2 separate regions of the Homo sapiens genome follow, and region 1 is linked to region 2. The links come from fine-mapping of genetic effects on gene expression. Tissue or cell type: whole blood. Region 2 holds a variant in brackets; the other region holds the start of a gene. All regions are shown on one strand. Distances are between the middles of the regions.

Evidence for each region. PIP is the estimated chance that this variant, and not a neighbour inherited with it, causes the effect.
Region 1: PFKM starts here. The variant in region 2 is fine-mapped to the expression of PFKM in whole blood (TOPMed, PIP above 0.99).

Annotation. Positions count from the first base shown.
Region 1 is chr12:48,114,764-48,122,863 of GRCh38, reverse strand. PFKM (phosphofructokinase, muscle) reads right to left here and starts at 3,500. Exons shown (of 23, transcript NM_000289.6): 1 at 3,458-3,500; 2 at 5-97. The coding sequence starts at 89. RefSeq lists an enhancer at 3,835-3,904.
Region 2 is chr12:48,020,599-48,028,703 of GRCh38, reverse strand. The region is part of intron 2 of LOC105369750 (a long non-coding RNA gene); the gene reads right to left. It overlaps LOC124902927 (a long non-coding RNA gene), which reads left to right and starts at 6,529. Exons shown (of 2, transcript XR_007063293.1): 1 at 6,529-6,739. RefSeq lists an enhancer at 6,195-7,186. The variant G/A (reference allele first, on the strand shown) is at 4,341.

The sequences.
Region 1 (8,100 bases), 94 kb before region 2:
TTACCTTGGGCATCTCCACCAGAGGTTAAGACAGCAATGGCTTTGCCAATCCCCAGGGTTTTGGCTGCATGGTGCTCTTCATGGGTCATGATCCACTCTAGAATTTAAGACAATGGTCAGTTAAGACACAGCAGGAATCAAGATGCCACTAGCTAAAGGAACGGCAATTAGACTGGCTAGAGCCACCTCAGTCAGGCTCTCCCACTATACCAAGTCTGAGCTTTGCAGCCTGAGAGCTTTGGACTTCTTCCAGAGGAAAGCCACACCCTTGTAGACTGACAAGCTGAAATGTCATGTAATCAAGCCCAAGACTACTAAGGTCCTAATTCCTCCCTGATCCCTCCCACCCCAATTGGAACCTATTTGGGGAATAAACTAAGGTCAGGGAAAAGAGAAGTTGACTGAATAGAAATGAGAAAGGGAGGAGAAAAAGTTGAGTTAGCCTCAACGATCCCTCCCTTTTCAATGAAGGGATAGGTTATTGCAGAGGGCTGGAATCAGATGAGGTTTAGGGCACTGATGACAATCAGCAAAGTAGAAGTAGAAGAGCAAGGGTAGGTTGGATTATAATTAAGATTAGGGTTGGGTGTTATGGAATTGTGCTATTGGAATGGGGTTAGGTGATATGGAGTTGAAACTGGAGTCTGAGGCTATAAAGGCACATCAGAGTTAGGCAAATTAATGGTGTCAGTCTCAAGAATGGTCAGGGGCTTTCTATGGCTCTTCCCTCTCAGGATGTCAGCCTCCTGAGCATCTCTTGATCCTTGGTCTTTGGGTCTTGCCCCTCACATTACTACATGCTATGAAATGAGAAAATTAACACAAAGTCACTGCCGTATATACACAGATGTGTACATACGACATGGGAACACCTTCATATTTTATTCTTTAGGGATCACCTCTCTCAAAGGAACACACAAGAGGACGTATTTTTGTATCCATAAAATGCCAGTAGAATTATCACTCTCCCAGTTTTTCAGGCTAAAACCTGTTATTTTAAATTTATCTCCTCCCTTCCTCTCAGATTCAAAACAGTAACTAAATCCTATTATTCTCCCTTCTTATTATCTTCCTTTATCCATCCCCTCCTTTCTATCCTCATTGCCATTTTCCACCTGAACTGCTTACTACAATAGCTGGTTTCCCTGTGCTTGTGTTCCTTTCTTCACTCTATTAGACACACAAAATAAACCTTCATAGGAAGGTCATAGGTCCCTAGGCTTCAGTGGAGATGTGTATTCATTCACAGGAACCCAAGTTTTACGGGCAGCTTGTGCTTGCTTCTACCCTGCATTTGGAGAACTCAGGGTAGCTGCCTATAGAGACATAAGTCACATAAACACCCAAATCCACACAAATAATAAAATAATGCAATGAGACATATATGAAGACATACATTCACAAACATGCATTGTGTTAACAGACAGAGATTAATGAACGTACTACATATAATCAGTACTAACAAATAAGGTCCCAACTTGTTGGGTTGGCATTCGAAGCTTCTACAATTTAGCCCTTGCATATAGCTTCAACTGTTGGTCCTATAGATTCTCTGCTCCATTGTCACCTGAACATTACTTTGCTCTTCCCACTTTAGTGCCTGGGCACACTGCATCCCTTGTCCAGGTGGCTACCCTGGCCCTTTCCACAGATTCACATCCCATTCCATCATTTAAGACCAGTGATAGTTGTACCCTTATTAAACCTTCACTGATTACCACAGGTCAAGGAAACCTTCTTTTGGACTTCCTCTAACCACATGTTGTCTAAACTGGATCACTGCCTCCCAGGTTCAAGTGATTCTCCTGCCTCAGCCTCCCGAGTAGCTGGGATTACAGACATGCACCACCACACCCGGCTAATTTTTGTATTTTTAATTGAGACGGGTTTTCACCATGTCGGTCAAGCTGGTCTTGAACTCCTGACTTCAGGTGATCCGCCCACCTTGCCTCCCAAAGTGCTGGGATAACAGGCATAAACCACCATGCTCGGCCTGCTTTATGTGGCATTTTAATAGTTTCGTACGCACTGATAAGAGGGTTGGACTAGATCAGGGGTCAGCATACAACAGCCTGTAGGCCAAATCCAGCCCTTCTCACATTTTTGTATGGCAGTAAGCTGTGAAAGGTTTTTATATTTTTTAGTGGTTGCAAAAAGTACTTCATGACATGTGAAAAATGTTAAGTTCAAATTTCAGTATGTGCACTACCTTCGTTCATTCACGTATTATCATGGATGTTTTTGTGCTACAACAGCAGAATGGATATTGTGACAGAGACTCATAAGCCTGCAGTTTAAAATATTTACTATCTGGTCTTTTACAGACGAAGTTTGCCAACCACTGGACTGGATGGCTGCTAAAGTCATTTTTCCTAACTAGACTGAGAACTCCTCCAGGGCAGGGATCATGATCATTTTTAAAAACTCTCCCACAGCTCACTAAAGACTTGCAAAGTCTATGCACATTACAGGACCCCAATAAATACTTGTTGAAAACGTTAATGAACTGATGAACTACATGAAATACAAATATATGAAAAATGTAAAATCGGCTTAGATACAGATATACCTCCATATTCTACTTTAAAACACACTTTTAACTTGGACTTGAGAAATCATATAGTGACAAACAGTGAAAGGAACATAGAGACACGCGTGACTAGAGACGCTCTTATTTAACTGGAATGTTCATGTCCAAATTTCTGCTGTTTTCCAAAAAGAAAGATTAAGTGACTAGGGCAAATAGGAAGGCAAAAAGGTGGAAAGGAAAAAACAAGACATCTGGGTATGCTGATCCCTTTCCTCCCGTTTTTTCTTCTCATTCACTCTTGGAGCTCATGACGGGGGCAGAATCCCACACAGAGCTCTTCCACCCCTGGAAGCGTCAGTGAGGGAGAAAATTCGCCATAACAAGAGGAGTTTAAGAGTGCTGACCTGTAAAAACCGCTCATATTCTTCTCCTGAAATCTCTAAGACAGTTATAGAGGCACAGGACACAGAAATTCATGCAGACTCATGTATAAGCATCCCTTACAGACCCACAATGACACGCACGTAGACAAAAACAGACAGATATTAAAACATATCTCTAAAATCACGTGCGTATATAAGCACGCGGCAGGGAGGAACAGAAAAGCAGCATCATAGGAGCACTGATTTGAATTGGGTGAGTGCCAGGGTAGGGTCAGGCAGCCAAGGGCAACCCGTCCGAGCCCCACCCACCCATCCCAGATTCCTGGGGAATGCAGCTGAGCCTGCAAGCGGAGGGGACTGGCCAAGGGGCTAGGATCCTTCACGACTGCCCTGCCCATCCCCCTCTCGGCTCCAGCTTAGGATGCCGTATCTCTTCTTTTCCTTTCTGCTCCTTTCAGTTCTCCCTACCGCCTGCTCCCGGCCCATACCTTCCCACCTCACTCCCAGCTCTCCCCCTTGCTCTTCACTCAATGGCCCCTCTTGCCTTTTAGTCTTAGCTCTCCTCCGCCGCTGCTTTCTTGCAGATTGTCCTTGGGAAAGGGGGGAGGGGTGATGGACGAACATGGGGAGGAGCCAGGTGGAGGCAAAGAGGGAGGGGGAAGGAGGAGAGGCTTCCCAACCTCCACTAACAGATGCTGACAAGAAGGCTCCGCCTCCTCCTGCTTGCCTTTCTCCTCCTCTTCCTCCTCCCCCTAAGTACTCAGCTCAGATATGGCAGCGGCTTAGTTCCTTCACTCCCCAGAGTCCTGGGGTCCTCATATCTATCTCGAGAGCCATCAGCATCTTTATTTAATGGGAATAATAAATTATTTCGTTGCTTCTCTTGTTTTCAACACAGAACTTTTTCCTAGTCCAGACTGCCTGAGACACCTTGCATTCCAACATCTTCAGCAACTGCTAATAAAACCTGCCCCTGTGGCCCTCTATCCGTCTTTAAGCAAACATTTCTTGGGAGTCTGTGTGCTAGATTTTGCATTAGGTGCCGAGAGGTTTAAAAAAAATAAATATAGTCCCTGCCTTTGAGGAACATTGAATTATGACATCTTCTATAGAATAGCCTCAAAAACTTCTTTTACATTTACATTACCTTTCTCAGAGAAAGTACAGAAAAGCTAGCTATTTGGAATGAAAGTGTCAAGAGGGAAGGGCGTGTCTGTGAGGCCACTTCTCAAGCCTGCAGTGGGGAGGGATGGGGGCGGGATTCTGGCAGTGAAGCAAACATATAAATTGGGCTTCACAGCAAACAGGATCCACTCTGGAAAAAGGGTCAGATGCTCCCAGAGCAAGAGGTGCATCCATTACTCAAGTCTCACCTTCCCTTTGCTTCATTGTCTCCACAGTCGGGTCTCCTCTTGCTTTTACCACTGCCCTCTTCCTCTTGCTTACTTGTATCTCTACCTCTGCACATTCTGGCACAAACAATACAAATGCAAGTGACTAGGAGATAAAACCCCATTTGACTACACAAAATAAAAGCATTTGTTCTCCAAATTATACCATCAAGAAAGTGGAAAGACAACCCACAGAATGGGAGAAAATATTTGCAAATCATGTATCTGATAAGGGGCTGGCATCCAGAATAAATAAAGAACTCATTTGCAACTCATTAAGAATGTAAACCAAAAATAAAATTATAAGCCCCTCAACCATCTGAATAGACCCCTCCTCTCAGTCAAGGGTATTCCAAAGTTAATCTGAAAAACTAGTTCAGACGTTGATGGAAAGGGGAAGCCAGACACACTTCATTATATGCTCCTCCCTTTTGGAATTACTGATAGAACAGACTCTTTAAGTCTGATAAGAAACATTTACAATCTATTCTCTGAAACCTGCTACCTGGAAGCTTTGTCCACCTGATAAAACCTTGGTCCTCACAGATTGCTTTTCTATTAAGTCTTTGGACAATAACTTAACTCTTTTCACCAATTTCCAATCAGAAAATCTTTGAATCTACCTATGACCTGGAAGCCCCGCTCCCCCCTCCCTGCTTCCAGTTATCCCGCCTTTCTGGACTAAATGAATGTACATCTTACATATATTCATTGATACCTTATATCTCCCTAAAATTTATAAAACCAACTTGTGGCCCGACCATCTTGAACACATGTTCTCAGGATCTCCTGAGGGCTGTGTCATGGGGGAGCTATTGGTCACTCGTATTTGGCTCAGGATAAATCTCTTCAAATGTTTTACAGTTTGACTCTTTTCAGTGACAATAAAAAGAAAATACCTCAATTTAAAAATGGGCAAAAGAGTTGACCAAAGAAGATATACAGGTGGCAAATAAACATGAAAAGATGTCAACATCATATGTCATTAGCGAACTGCAAATTAAAACAGTGAGACACCACTACACACCTATTAGAATGATTAAATGATTAAAATTCAAAAATCCAAATGCTAATGAGAATGTGGAACCACTGGAACTCTCATTAATTGCTGGTGGGAATGCACAATGGTACAGTCACTGTAGAAGACAGTTTGACAGTTTTTTACAAAGCTAAATATTGTCTTACCACATGATCCAGCAATAGCACTCCTAAGTATTTAGCTGAATGAGCTGAAAATTATGTCTGCACAAAAAACCTGCACATGAATGTTTATAAAAGCTTTATTCATAATTGCCAAAAGCTGGAGGCAACCAAGATGTCCCTCAAAAGGTGAATAAACAAACTGTGATACAGCTATACAATGGAATATTTTCCATCAATAAAAAATTATCAAGCCAGGAAAAGACATAGTGAAACGGGCCAGTGTGAAAAGGCTGCATACTGTATGATTCCAACTGTATGACAGTCTGGAAAAGGTAAAACTACGGAGACAATAAAAATATCAGTTGTTACTGGGGCTTGGGATAGAGAAGGAGAGATTAATAGGTGGAGCACAGGGGATTTTAGGGGCACTAAAATGATTCGGTATGATGCTATAACAGATACATGACATACATTTGTCATGACATTATGCATTTGTCAAATTCATAGAACTATACAATCCAAAGAGTAAACCCTAATGTAAACTATGGAACTTAGCTAATAATAATGTATAAATATTGGGTTATCAATTATCACAAGTGTACCACACTAATGCAAGATGTTAATAAGTAGGGAAAACTGGCCAGGCACAATGGCTCACACCTGTAATCCCAGCACTTTGGGAGGCCAAGGCAGGTGGATTGTTTGAGCTCCGGAATTTAAGACCAGACTGGGCAACATGGTGAAACCCCGTCTCTACAAAAATACAAAAAATTAGCCAGGTGTGGTGGCACATGCCTGTAGTCCCAGCTACTCAGGAGGTTGAGGCACAAGAATGACTTGAGCCTGGGAGGCAGAGCTTGCAGTGAGCCGAGATTGCGCCACCACACTCCACCCTGGGCGACAGAGTGAGATCCTGTCTCAAACATAAAAAATTTAAAAATGAGCAAAGGCTTGAATAGACAGTTCTCTAAAAATGATATATAATGGCTAAAAAGTACAAGAAAAGATGCTCAACATCAATAGCCATTAGGGCAATGCAAATCAAAACTACTTCATTTGAAGTGAAAATACTACTTCATATCCATTAGGATGGCTATTATCAAAAAAGAAAAAAAGAAAGGAAGGAAGATGGAAGGAAGGAGGTAGGGAGGGGTGGAGAGAGAGAAAGGAGGGAGAGGGGGAGGGAAGGAAGGAAGGAAGGAGAAAAGAAGGAAGGAGGGAAGGAGAGAGGGAGAGGAAGAAAGGAAGGAGGCAGGGAGTGAGGGAGAGAGAGAGGAAGGAAGGAAGGAAGGGAGGGAAGGGGGGAAAGGAAAAAGAAAGAAAAGTATTACAGCGGATGTGAACAAATTGGAACCCTTCTGCATTGCTGGTAGGAATGTAAAGTGGTGCAGCTGCAGTGGAAATTTGGCAGTTCCTCAAATGTTAAACATAGAGTCATCATATTAATTAGCAATTCCACTCCTAGGTATATACCTACGAAAAATGAAAACATATGTACACACAAAATCTGTATACCAATGTTCATAGCAACATTATTCACAATGTTGGCAAAATGTGGAAAGAGCCCAAAGTCCATCAACTAAAGAATGGATAAATAAAATGTGTCATATAAATATGACAAAAAGTGTCAAAATTTGTAAAATATTTGAAGATATTTATTCTGAGCCAAATATGAGTGACCAATGGCCTGTGATACAGCCCTCAGGAGATCCTGAGAACATGTGCCCAAGATGGTCAGGCTGTCAGGCCTCTGAGCCCAAGCTAAGCCATCATATCCCCAGTGACCTGCACGTATACATCCAGATGGCCTGAAGCAACTGAAGATCTACAAAAGTGAAAATAGCCTTAACTGACGACATTCCACCATTGTGATTTGTTTCTGCCCCACCTTAACTGATCAATGTACTTTGTAATCTCCCCCACCTTTAAGAAGGTTCTTTGTAATTCTCCCCATCCTTGAGAACGTACTTTGTGAGATCCACCCCCTTCCCTCAAAACATTGCTCTTAACTCCACCGCCTATCCTAAAACCTATAAGAACTAATGATAATCCACCACCCTTTGCAGACTCCTTTTTCGGACTCAGCCCACCTGCACCTAGGTGAAATAAACAGCCTCGTTGCTCACACAAAGCCTGTTTGGTGATCTCTTCACATGGACACGTGAAACATTTGGTGCCGAAGACCCGGGTCAGCAGCCTTCCCTTGGTGTTTAATTATCGTGGGGATGCCTCTCTGATTATTCACCCATGTTCCATTGGTGTCTGATCTCCACAGGGACGCCTGCCTTGATCATTCACCCGTGTTCCCTTGGTGGCAAGTCAATTGCAGGGATGCCTGCTTTGGCTGCTCACCCACATTGCAGCCCAGAGCTGCTCCCCATCCCCCTTCTCCATGACTCTACTCTTCTCTTTAAACTTGCCTCCTTTACTATGGGCAACCTTCCACCCTCCATTCCTCCTTCTTCTGCCTTAGCCTGTGTTCTCAAGAACTTAAAACCTCTTCAACTCTCACCTGACCTAAAATCTAGGCATCTCATTTTCTTCTGCAACACCGCTTTGCACCAATACAAACTCGACAATGGTTCTAAATGGCCAGAAAACGGCACTTTTGATTTCTCCATCCTACGAGACCTAGATAATTTTTGTTGAAAAA
Region 2 (8,105 bases):
ACAGCTCACTGAGGCAACGCTGGGAGTGCACACAGGCCTGCCACTGTCCTCCACCTCCCTCAGCCGAGCATGTTCCCCAGCTCAGGGCAGCCCCCATCATCCTTGACAGGCCAGGGAATTCCAGATACCAGACAATCATTCTAATGACCCTTCAGGAGTGAGTTTCAGTGTGCTGCCTTAGCCTCCACAGGCATTCGGCCTTTTTTTTTTTTCTTTTGAGGTGGAGTCTCGCTCTGTCACCAGGCTGGAGTGCAGTGGCGCGATCTCGGCTCACCGCAACCTCTGCCTCCCGGGTTCAAGCAATTCTCCTGCCTCAGCCTCCTGAGTACCTGGGACTACAGGCACACGTCACCACGCCCAGCTAATTTTTGTATTTTTAGTAGAGACGGGGTTTCACCATGTTGCCCAGGATGGTCTCCATCTCTTGACCTCATGATCTGCTTGCCTCAGCTTCCCAAAGTGCTGGGATTACAGGCGTGAGCCACCACGCCCGGCCTCATTCAGCCTTTTTATGACTAATTCTGGAATGAAGGAATGTGTCTGTTTCAGAAGTTCCAAGTATCAATAGGTAGAGTTCTAGTGAATTCCCAGAGTCTGGGGAGCCCCAAAATAACATATTCTAGTGTCTACGTTTGCTTGTCTTTAAAAGGGAGCTAATAATACTCACGTCTTGGGGTACGAAGAGTTTGCAGACAGGCAGTGCCGAGCCCAGCATCTAATGCATGGCAAGCACTCCAGCCTCCTCCTGTGCGCCAGGCTCAATCTCCACTCATTCATCAGGCGCGTGCCCAGTGCCTGTGGTGTGCTGAGCGTGCGCTGGGCGCGGGGTTCAGAGTCTCCTGGGGCCCAGTCCCTGCCTCCAGGAGTTTACACAGAACAGCCTCTGAGACTCCCAGCATCAGGCAAGACAAGCTGGTGTCCCTTCCAGGACCCAAGGCCTTCCCTCCCCAGCCTGAGGCAGGGGTACCCTCCCTCAATTCCCCAGTTACCTTCCCACCACTCTCCAAGGTCTCAGTTTATTGTTTTTTCATTCTACCGGGGGCTGACCTTAGTTGTGGTTTAATGGCCTTTTCCTCCTGCGGCCCCTCTTAACTGACACCTGGAATGCCTCTCTGAGCTGCCTCTCGCCTTTCTGTCTCTGCTAATGAGGTTTCTAACAAAGCCATGTGTCACTGGAAGTCTGCTCACAGAGGGACTGCTGGACTGTAGCCTGGGGGACCCGGGCTCTGTGGGAGGAAGGGGATGTGGCAAGGGGGGAGGGCCGAGGGAACACAACATTTCTTTCAGAAAAGGCTGAGGCCTGGGGCGAGGGAAGGCAGGAGGCTGGAGCCCGCTCCCTCTGAGCATGCTCCAGGGTGGCCACAGGCTGACGGCTGGAGAACTCACCCCAACCCCCAGGCTCTGGAGAACTCGCCCCAATCCCCAGGCTCTGGAGCTGTCATTGTAGCCACCTGAGCAACGGCTGAAGGACCAGGGCCTGGACCTTGTAGGGTGCACCTAACTTAGTGTCTGGCACAAGGAGACACTGGGTGTGTGCTAGTGGCTTCTCTCTAGTCTGTCCACGTGGGTGGGCTTCAGAGAAGATGGCCTTGAGTGTCCCCAGGCACTGTCCTTTCTGTGCCGGGGAAGGTCTATGTGCATCCCCAGCCAGGCCTGCTCCTGGAGGATTCCGTCTCCTAGGCCAAACTTGACAGAGGAAGATGAGCTCCACGAAGAGCCCTGGAGACCAGACCTTCCAGAGAAGAGACGGCTGTGCGATAGCCCAGGAATAAGTGCTCTCCAACTTTCCACAGGGCTGTTAGATCCAGGAAAGAAACTCAGCTCTCAGGCTCAGGGATCAAGAGATTGTATGTAGAAAACACCTCATGGTACATCCATAATCAGCCAACAGATCAAGCACCTACTCCCTGGAAAATGAGTGCTGAAAGGCTGCTCTTGGCAAGAACTAAACTCCAATGAAGGCACAGCCATGCAGTGTACTTGCTGTTACTGTGAATCTGGTACTGTCTGTTCATTCAGTTCTCCCAACAAACCTGGGAGGAGGAAGATGTTGCTGCCATTGCCCCCCATAACAGATGAGGCAACTGAGTAACAGAGAGGTTAAGCAATTGGCTCAAGCACACAGAGCTGGCAAGCAGTAGTTATAAGATTAGAACTCGAGCCTGAACTCGAGCATGATGCTGTACTATCTGCCCCACTTGCAGGGAGGGGGAGGTTTGGGAGCCTGGGAGAAGGTGGGGGAGCAGGAACAAGTCAGGCCAGTGGGCAAATCGTGTCAGCAGAGCAGTCTAAGCAGAGGGGAAACCAAAGAGAGGAGCCACGCCGTCCTGGCCCTGAGTACACTGGGCCTGGTGGAGAAGCCAACCAGGGACAGAGACAGGAAAGCTGGATGAGAAGGGCCTTGGGTGCTGATCTGAGGAGCTGCCCTGTGCCTGTAGACAGTGTCTCAGTAGAAAAGTCTGGCCAAGTGCAGACTGGAGGGGACAGGCAGAACCATGACCCAGGGAGCCGGGACAAGTCACTAGAACTCTCTGGATAAGGAGCAGGCCCCCTCTCTGACCAGCCCGGGGCAGGACCTCCCTGTGTAGAACAAAATTGTGTCCATCAGACTGCTGTGTCCAGACAGCTCTAGGTGAGGGCTGAGATCACATGCAGTGTTCCCAGATCGATTTGCTAGATCTGAGGGTCACCTAGACTATGATTGTTTTTATGGTTTCCTTAAGTCAACTTTCTCATTCTCTTTTACTTTACTCAAGTTTACTTGAAATGAAAACTCTGTAACATGGGATTGATATTCTACCTTTTCCTCCAATACTTATTAAAATAAATCTGTTTTACAGGTTTGGTCCCTGCCAAAATACATACACATGTACATTAAAATATAGATACTATATATAACACTATTAGAATGCAAAACTTTCATCCAAGTTCTACCTAAAATCACCCAGGGACCTTTGCACTTAGGAAACATTGTCTTGTGGCCTATCCCTTGCTCTCCAGTTGAAGTGACCTCATTCAAAGATTTCACATTTGGAAAAGGCAAATCAGAAAATCACTCAGACCCAAGGGAGGGAAGGAGGCCAGGCTTGGGCTGGGGGCGGGGGCTGGGAGGCACCCTGGTGGGCTTGAGACCCAGGGGCTGGGGGCAGGCAAGTGAGCTGCCTAGGGCCGTGAATGAGGCCTTGTTGAGAGCCGTGGCAGCTCGGCAGTGTGCAGAGACCATGCTGCAAATGTAAAGTTTCCAATAACTTTTATGGGTGGTTTCTTAATAAACATCTGAGCAGCCTGTCTGGACCGAGAGCTGTGTTGTCCCAGGCGCCCAGAGATGGAGCTGGGTGAGGGGCTGCTGTCTGCAGTGTCAGCCTCTGCACCCCACCCACAGCCTCCCACGGCATCCCCTCCCCATCTCCCCTTTGTCTTCCTCTGTCTTCCTTTTTACTTCCTTTTCGCTGTTTAATGAGAACGACTTCCATTTGCTATTTGTTGACTGAGTCCGGCACTGCATTAAGCTCTGTCTACATTTTGTCTTAGTGCTTGCAGGCACTTTATAAGGTAGACGCAAGTATTGTGCCACTTTTACACATCAGGGAACGTATGAACACATCAGGTTGCTCAGCAATGAAGTGGAAGAGCATTGATAGCCCTTTGGGCACAGATCTGTGTGCCTCCAAAACCCATGCTCTGAGCGCTGGTAACCTCTACTCCTCCTCTTCCTCACCTTGTCAGCATCAGCACTCCACCTTCCCTTTCCTCCTCCGCTTCGAATCTCAGAGCCAACTTCAGCTAGTGCCTCTCCCTTCGGAAACACCTCCGGGAAATACCTCCTCCCAGATCACCCCTGCCAGAACCAGCAACGACTATGAGTACAGCACGTGGGTCTGCAGGTTAGTTGACTTGTCTGTGATGGGACTGATTAATCGAATGCTGAGACACTTTTGTAGCCATTTGAAAGCCATTTGGGTTATTGGCCCTGGCTTCAGATAAACAAGATAAATAAACCTCAGCAAGAAGGAAATGGCTTCTGGGGTCTTTCTCAGAATTTGGTACATCAAAGTGAAGTCCTAGATGGAAGGGTACACTTCCCACAAGCACCTTCCAGTGGGGTCCCTTGCTTTGTTTAGTTGACTTATCACTAAACATATGGGCTATAAGATTGATAATATGTTTTGTAAAAAGGGTAGATGCTCAATGGCCTCGTTGGGCCTATCCAAAGATAGAATGCTATGGGAAAGGAAAACACCTTAAGAAGAAAAGTTCTTGGGTGAGGCGCGGTGGCTCACGCCTGTAATCCCAGCACTTTGGGAGGCTAAGGTGGGTGGATCACTTGAGACCAGGAGTTC[G/A]AGACCAGCCTGGCCAACACGGCGAAACTAAAAATACAAAATTTGCCAGGTCTGGCGGGGGGTGCCTATAATCCCAGCTACTCAGGAGGCTGAGGCAAGAGAATCGCTTGAACCTGGGAAGCAGAGGTTACAGTGAGCCGAGATCATGCCACTGCACTCCAGCCTGGATGACACGGCAAGACTCTGTCTCAAAAAAAAAAGAAGAAGAAGAAAGGTTCTCAGATGTCAGGAGACAGAAACAGTGACCTTGAAGTGTAAACACTGAACCCTTAGCTCACAACAAATCAGTTAGAATGTATTAGCTGCATTAGAACTGTCCACACTGACTTCAACCCTGTATTTCTTGGGTCTGGAGCCTTTTGTAGGGCTCCGTGTGTGTACATATTCTGCAAACTCCTAACCTGGAAGCAGTCATTTGGTGGCTATAAGCTGTGAGCAAGAAATGCTCCAATTATCTGTGCATTAAGATTAATCAGAACTCTGGTCACCGATGCATATATGTGTGATGCTGAAGCACTGCCTTCCAGCCTCTCTGTGGTTGTGTTTGTCTGATAATTATAAGATCCGTGAGGACAGAGGCCACAGATCAGGGATGTCCTTCTTCCGAGATGGAGACAAGGGCAGAGCAGGTGGCAAACTGTGGCCTTGTGTTCCAGGGGGGCGTGTCCACACTTCACACTCTGATTGTGCTGGCTTGCAGTGTGGCTGGGCCTCTCGGGTTGCAGCACCCTCATTTGTTCTACCCTAACACAATCAAGAAAGATAAAAAAGAACACTGTAGCCAGGGAATCTCAGCTGCTGTGCCAGTCACCGGCCATTCATTGTGTGGGGCTGAAGATCTAGCTGGGAGTCAGGTCTAAGAACTGGTTCAGCTCCTCCCCTTGCCTCATCTGTGAAGGCTACTCAGAGGAAAGAAACATGCACCTAGGCTCTCGAAGCCTTCACTGAAGGACAGAGAGTGCTTGTTACAGGCAGTTCCTTCAGGGTTGAAATTCCATTTCAGGTCTCAGCACCTAAAGTCATTTTTCTTTCTTATTTATGTTTCCTGTGGAAAGTCTGAAGAAAAACTGGTGGAGCATCTTTTGAGTTTGCATTTGGAAGGGAGAAAATATGCTCCTTCTCTGCTGGGCAAACATTGCAAACATTGGTGCTTTCACAAACCAAACACAAGCTGGTTTTCAAAGCCTCCGGCTTGGCGACCCAGGGAACTGGGGGGAGGGGAGGAGAAGGATGCAGCCACCTGGGCTGGGGAGGTTTGCTTTGGGAGCAGAGGTTGGAATTTGTGAATTTTCTACTCCAAGAAGATCCAAATAGTGCAGCTCCAGCCCCATCCTGCGCAAGCTTGCTCAGGCAATAGGGGCTCTACCTGGCTGGGGTCTCGATGGAGAGCCAGGGCCTTGGATGATCACCTCCCCGCCCCAATGCAGCCTGGAGTGAAGTGGAGAGGGGAGGGGTGAAGAGGTGTAGGAGAGACGGTGCAGATGAACCAAGATGGCCTCAGGGATTCTGGTCCCTCTCTCTGGGTGATGCTGAGGATAGAGAGCGGGGGTGAGAGTGAGAAGAACATGCCTCTGCACCCACAAATTTGCCAGGCTTTCAAACACTGACCAGGCAATCCACTGGGCAGTTGTTCCTATAAAGCTAGGACTATGAGAATAGCAGATGTATACTATGGTCTGTCTGGTTCTTTCAGCGTAGTCTGTAGCAAAAGGTTTCCTCACTCCCTCCTTTTCTTCTTCCTTCCTTCCACTTCTTTCTTGACAGAATAATATAATAAATTTCCAAGCACTCATCACTAGCTTTAATAAGTATCAACTAATGGCCAATCTTGTTTAATCCATAACTGCACCTACTTCACCCACTCTTTGTCCTCCAACTGAAATGTTTTGAAACAAAATCTAGACATCATATCCTTTTATCCATAGATACCTAGATTTAAAAAAAATTTTTGATATTGAACTCTGATGATACAGGGAATCTCCTTCCCGGTATCTTAGGGAAAAAATGCCCTTCATAAGTCTACATATAAATTTTGCAAATCATTGTAGGGGTTCAGGGAACCTCCGAAGCTCATCTAAAGACCTTAAATTTAAACCCTTGGTATATAGGGTAATCGCTAGCTCCCATAGAACACATTGTTTTTGGTAGCCTGGAGCTATTAGCTGTTCCTTTGAAGGAGATTTACTTTCTTGTTTTATTTGCAATAGGTATGCACTGAGTGCATTGTGACCATGCTGGGTTATTGTGGGTAAAGGTGAGAGAAGGCAGGGCACGCAGGGCAGATGATTACATTCCTGCCGGGAGGGCTGGAGAGCCCTTGGAAAGCAGCCTGCAGGCTGAGGAAGGAGGGACTCCGGGATCTGCCCTCAGGGGCTGCAGGAAGGAGGAACCTTTTCTGAGTAAGCTTTCCTGGGGGTTTGTTTATTGGCCAGCGTTAGGTCTCTGAGTGGTTGTTAATGTGTTTGTTTAGGGTCCATTGTGATGTCTTTAAGATAAAGACCTGCTCAGTTTACAGGCAACTGTCAAGTACTGGGCTTGGAGCCCAGGGAGCCAGTGAGGGAAGCATTTCCAATATGGCGATCAAAGCCACACTTAGGGCCTTCCTAGGCTCCTGAAATAATCTTGGAAGGCACTCTGGGAGAGGATCAGCAGCATGCACAGGGTTAGACTAGAGGGGCTCTTTCAGGCTGGACAAATAGCTGTTGAATAAGGAAACAGACTTCTTTGTTCTCTTTTTTTTTTTTTTTTTTTTTTTGTTTTGAGAGGAGGTATAGGAGCAAAGCCATTTTAGATGCTAGGGGTTCTTTGGAGAGAGCCCAGAAGCTTTCTGATCTTAATATCCAACTCTTTTGCTATTTCCCCTACCTCCTCATCCCACCTCAGGGTCAGCAAATCTCCATGTCTGCAGACCCAGGGACCTGTAGTTAAGCTGCATGGAGCCTAAAAAAAGGCACTGTGGTGCTGGTGCTTGGATACACATGGCAGGGGACACAGAAGTACTGAGATGGGCACAAAGAAACTCTGGAATTTATAGTAGAGCAAGGATGGCATTTCAACCAGTTAGGATAGACTTTTCTTGCTGTCACCCAGGCTGGAATGCAGTGGAATGATCTCGGCTCACCACGACCTCTGCCGCCTGGGTTCAAGCAATTCTTGTGCCTCAGCCTCCCAAGTAGCTGGGATTACAGGTGTGTGCCTCCACGCCTGGCTAATTTTTGTATTTTTAGTAGAGACAGGGTTTTGCCATGTTGGCCAGGCTGGTCTTGAACACCTGACCTCAAGAGATCTGCCTGCCTTGGGCTTCCAAAGTGCTGGGATTACACGTGTGAGCCACTGCACCCAGCCAAGATAGAATTTTCAATAAATGTCCCAGCACAACTGGGCAGACATTTGGGAGAAAAAACAGTAAGTTCAGATGTATATCTCATACCTTAAAATGAGATCAATTGTATGTGGATCAAAAATTTAAATGTAAAAATTTAACCCTAAAAGAACTTAAAGGAGCCAGGAGAAAAAAATTTAAAATCTATGAATGAAACCAGAAACCATAAAATAAAATAACAATAAATTTGACCATATAAAAATAAAAAGTGTTTGCATGGCAAACAAAAAGAATAATCATAAACAAAGTCAAAAGCCAAAATGAGGCCAGGCACAGTGTCTCATGCCTGTAATCCCAGCACTTTGGGAGGCCGAGGCAGGCGGATCACTTGAGGTCAGGAGTTCAAGACAATCCTGGCCAACAAGGTAAAACCCCATCTCTAC